Regions from separate parts of the Homo sapiens genome. Here region 2 is linked to region 1. Evidence: fine-mapped expression QTL. Tissue or cell type: caudate. Region 1 holds a variant in brackets; the other region holds the start of a gene. All regions are shown on one strand. Distances are from middle to middle.

What was found. PIP is the estimated chance that this variant, and not a neighbour inherited with it, causes the effect.
Region 2: ITPA starts here. The variant in region 1 is fine-mapped to the expression of ITPA in caudate (GTEx, PIP 0.98).

The regions. Positions count from the first base shown.
Region 1 is chr20:4,098,016-4,100,702 of GRCh38, forward strand. No RefSeq gene overlaps it. Among named protein-coding and RNA genes, the nearest start is that of SMOX, 49 kb to the right of the region's middle. The variant A/G (reference allele first, on the strand shown) is at 1,323.
Region 2 is chr20:3,208,162-3,210,848 of GRCh38, forward strand. It overlaps ITPA (inosine triphosphatase), which reads left to right and starts at 1,337. Exons shown (of 8, transcript NM_033453.4): 1 at 1,337-1,456. The coding sequence starts at 1,391. RefSeq lists enhancers at 932-1,580, 1,463-1,532.

The sequences.
Region 1 (2,687 bases):
GCTCTGTCACCCAGGCTGCAGTGCAGTGGCAGGATTTTGGCTCACTGCAAGCTCTACCTCCCAGGTTCACGCCATTCTCCTGCCTCAGCCTCCCGAGTAGCTGGGACTACAGGTGCCCGCCACCATGTCCGGATAATTTTTTGCATTTTTAGTAGAGACCGGGTTTCACTGTGTTAGCCAGGATGGTCTTGATCTCCTGACCTCATGATCTGCCCGCCTCGGCCTCCCAAAGTGCTGGGATTACAGGTGTGAGCCACCACGCCTGGCACAAACATCAATTTATTTCCTTATACTAGCAAGGAATAATAGAAAATTGAAATGAAGCAAAACCATTTACAACAGCATGAGATACATAAAATACTTAAGAGCTAAATCTGACAAAAGATGTATGAGATATCACAATGAAAATTACTGATAGAAATTAAAGAAGATCTAAATAAAAGGAGAGATATAATGTGTTCATGGATAGCAAGACTCAATATTACAAAGTATCATTCCTTTCCAAATTGATCTGTAGATTCAATGCAATTCCAATCAAAATCCCAGCAGTCTTTTTTGGTGGAAATGTATAAGCTGATTCTAAAATTAACATAGAAGTGCAAAGGACTTGTAATAGCTAAAACCAGTTTGTAAAAGAAGAATAAAGTTGGATTTACACTACTTGACTTTAAGACTTAGAAACTGGCATTAATCAAGACAGTGTGAAATTGGCATCAAGAAAGAAAAACAGAACAATGAAACATAATACAGTACAGAAATAGACCTTCTCATATATGGCCGATTGATTTTTGACAGTGGTGCAAAGGCAATTCACTGGAGAAAGGGTAGTTTCTGTTTTAACAAACAGTGCATGAACATTTGTTTATCCATATACAGAAAAATGAACCTTTTATCTATACTTGGCACCATATAAAAATAAACTCAAAAGCGATCATAGACCTAAAACTATAAAACTTTAAAAATAAAACACAGGGGAAAATATTGTGATCTTGTTTCTGTTCTCTTTTTTTTGAGTCAGAGTCTCACTCTGCCACCGGGTCCAAGTGATTCTCGAGCCTCCGCCTTGCAAGTAGCTGGGATTATAAGCGCCTGCCACCATGCCCAGCTAATTTTTGTGTTTTTAGTAGAGACGGGGTTTCACCATGTTGGCCAGGCTGGTCTAGAACTCCTGACCTCAAACGATCGACCCATCTCGGCCTCCCAAAGTGCTAGGATTACAGGTGTGAGCCACCATACCCAGCCATAACTCCTGTTCTTTGAAAGGCACTTTTGAGAGAACAAAAAGACAAGCCACAAACTGGAAGAAGAATATTTGCAAGTTA[A/G]ATAACTGATAAAAGATGTATGTTTAGAATATTTTTTAAAAAACCTTTTAAAACTCAATATTAAGAAAACCAACAACTTAAACAAAAATGGGAAAACATTCTTCACCAAAGAAGAGAAACACATGGCAAATAAATTCACACAAAGATGTTCAATGCTCAACATTACTAGTCATAGGGAAATGCAAATTAAACCACAATGGAATATTACTATAAACCTCTTCCCTTTTATTTATTTATTTTTTTGAGATGGAGTCTTGCTCTGTCACCCAGGCTGGAGTGCAGTCGCGTGATCTCGGCTCACTGCAACCTCTGCCTCCCTGGTTCAAGCGATTCTACTGCCTCAGCCTCCCGAGTAGCTGGGATTACAGGCATGCGCCACCACACCCGGCTAATTTTTGTGTTTTTAGTAAAGACGGGGTTTCACCATGTTGGTCAGGCTGGTCTTGAACTCCTGACCTCAGGTGATCCGCCCACCTCAGCCTCCCAAAGTGCTGGGATTACAGGTGTGAGCCACCGTGCCCGGCCCTTCTTCCCTTTGTGTTAGAAAGATCTGATGTCACCACCTGAACTTATTTCCTGGGGCTGCTGTAGCAAATTATTACAATAATTTAAACAATAGAATAAACAATAGGATTAAAACAATAGAAAAGTATTCTCTCCGTTCTGGAGGCCAGAGGTCTGAATCATTGTGTCAGCAGGGTTGGTTCCTTCTGGGAGCTCTGAAGAAGAATCAGTTCCATGCCTCTTTCTTGGCTTCTGGTGGTTGCCAGCGATGCTTGGCATTCTTGGCCTTATAGACACATCACCAGCCTCTGCCTCTGTCATCACTTGGCATCCACCCTGAACGTCTCTGTGTCTTGGTGTCCAAATTTCTCTCTTGTAAGGACAGTATGGGATTAGGCCCACCCTAATCCAGTATGATTTCATCTTAGCTTGATTATATCTGCAAAAACCACTATTTTCAAATAAAGTCACATTCACCGGTACCAGGGGTTTGGAATTCAGTTTATCTTTTGGGGGGACACAGTTCAACTCACAACACGACCTTAACTAATAATCGAACTTGCATCATTTATAGTCAGACAACCAAACATTATGAGCTTCCTGATGTGATACATACAACATGACGTCATAGTGCCACCTTTGTATTCTTGCCAAAAATGTTTAACCCATATCTAATGAAACTGTTTAAATGAACTTCCAGGTTACAGGGAATATACAGGGTAGAGGAGTAAGTTAAATGACACCATGATAAAGCAATCTGACAAGTCCAGAGTAGGGGGAATATTCTGCAAGACAACTAGTGTGCTGTCCTCAAAAAGTCTATGTCAAGCCAGAGGCAGTGGTGCCTGTAGTCCCAGCTGC
Region 2 (2,687 bases), 890 kb before region 1:
GAGCTGGGGCTTGAGCTGGCTAAGATCCAAGAAAGGCATCCATGTAAGGTGGGCTGTTTTTCTTCTTTTCAGGCTCCTCGGGGTAACTGATGTCCCCCAAGCCCTCCTCTGCCCCCAAATCCCCATGGCCACTCCTCTAGGGACTCTGCATAATGGTTAGTGTTTCTACTTCAATAAAAGAAAACAGGTCACCACCCAAAGCAGTGGTTCCCACACATTTTTTTTCTTTTTCAGACGCAGTTTTGCTCTTGTTGCCCAGGCTGGAGTCCGATGGCACGATCTCCGCTCACTGCAACCCCCACCTCCCGAATTCAGGCGATTCTCCTGAATCCTGAATTCTCTGAACTGGGATTACAGGCATGCACCACCATGCCCAGCTAATTTTGTACTTTTTGGTAGAGATGGGGTTTCTCCATGTTGGTCAGGCTGGTTTCAAACTCCTGACCTCGGGTGATCCACTCGCCTCAGCCTCCCAAAGTGCTGGGATTACAGGCGTGAGCCACCGGGCTTTCCCACACTTTGATGAGCATCAGAATGGCCTGAGGAGCTTGGTAAGAACTCAGACTCCCTCCCTTTCTTGTCCATGGGCAGAAGTGGCCATTCAAGAGGTACTGACACAGGGGTCCAGGCGGGGGGCAGAGGGCTGAGTCTCTGGAGGAGGGAGGTCAGATGACTTGCTGCAAAGAGAGTATCAGCAGAGGTTCAGCAGACCCACCTTTGAGAGGGCACTTCCTACTTTCTGTTGTGTTTGGAATGCAAAGATCTGGCTGAAACGGTGGCCACGGAGAAGGGGTGATAGATTTGAGAGGCTGGAGGGATGAGGAAGTGAGGAACTCTACATACTGAGCTCTCAAGCCTAGGAGTGAAAACGGGTGAGAAGTTTGGGCTTGTTTTAGGCTATGCCGAGTTTAAGTTCACAGTCGAGTGGATCATAGCTGGCGGGTAAGGCTGAAGGTGAGATCAGGATGAGGGTTTGGAAGCCCTTGCCTAGAAGGAGGCAGTTTTTTGAGACAGCATAGGAGAGCGCAAACCTCCAGGGTCACAGGGCTGCAGTCTTCTCCTTTCGGAGACCCCATTGCAGAGAAGAGCGAAAGCAGGGGCGGGGTGGGGGTGGGAGTGGTCTCTTCCGGTTCTTGAAGATAGCGTCCCTTAGGCAGGAGGGGTGGGTCACTCAGTCTCCAGGCTCGGGAGGCCCCCAGCAAATCGGACGCTGTGGGCTAGGCCGCCACCGCGAGCCCACTCGCCCGATACGCGCCTTGGGGTCCGGGTCGGCTTTCCCCGGGACCCCTGGCCGGAAACTGAGCCGTTCACTTCCGCCACCAGCCGGAAGTTTTCTGTCACTGGACGCCAAGGAGTTTTCGGTGGCTCAGCTGGGTAACCGGGGATCACCATGGCGGCCTCATTGGTGGGGAAGAAGATCGTGTTTGTAACGGGGAACGCCAAGAAGCTGGAGGAGGTGCCGGGAGGGTGTTGGGGGCTAACTGGGAGGCGGCTGGGAATAGGGCGGAGAAGGGGCTTCCGGGAGGAGGGAAGCACGTGGGAGGAGGCATGGAGAGAGAACAGAATTCAGCCCGGAAGAATGGGTCCTGACCCGGCTGTGTGGAAAAGCTGGGGCGCAAGAAGGGAGTGGCTGCAGAATCGGGGCGCCCCGGGGTTGGCGAGGGAACGAGGGTCTCGACAGATCCCGACACAGGGCTTGTGTGGTCAGCGACTGCGGGACCCGGAGGAGTAGCGGGGCTCTTAACAACCGCCCCGAAGGTCACCTATTGAAGTAGACCCCAACCCAGTGTCCCGACACTCTTCTGGGACTTATCCACATCCCGCTGCTGGGCCAGGGCTAGCAGGACCCAGAGAGGGCGTGGGACGGAGTTCCACACTGAGCAGTCCGTGCCTCACCACCGTCCTGAAATGTTCTAACCTCTTTTCGCGTGTGTGAAATGGGGATGATGCAGGACATTTGCTTCACAGCGCTATAGAGAGGAGGAGTAAAGGAGGCAGTGGATCTAAAGTTTCTGTTTGCAGGGACTTTGTGGCTAGCAAGTAACAGAAACACACAGGGAGCTCATGTAAGCCACCAGATGACTCCTGTGGGAATATAGTGTTATCGTGTCCCACAGGACCTGAAGTTCTCTCAAGAAGCTGACTTGTCCTTGTTCTCTCTGGATGCTGATCCCTATTCCTGTTCATATCTTTCCCCTTTCTTCCCTGCTGGGGGATGGAACAATGAGGCTTCTACCAGATATCAGCTCCGACTGGCTTTGCTTGAATCAAGAGTTTGCCCCTGTTCAATCAGCCATAGCCATGGAGTGGGGGTCATGTGTGGGGGATCAGGATGACACCCACTGGATATGTCTGAGGCAGACCAGTGGGGTGTAATCACTAGGGACACCTACATTTGCCTGTAGTGTAGGGAGGGACTGATGTCACTTTGGTGCCAGGACTGAGTGGCCTTCTCAGGAACCAGAGCCTTTTGCCGAAAAAAGGTTTGGGATCCTGAGGCCAGACCAGTCAGGCAGTCCACCCTGAACAGAGCCCATGCAGGACAGTGGGCATGAGACCCCAAACCTCTGGCTGAGAATATTGCCCTCACTTAAAGAAGGAGCTGGAACCCGAGTGCAGTGCCTCACGCCTGTAATCCCAGCACTTTGGGAGGCTGAGGTGGGCAGAACATCTGAGGTCAGGAGTTC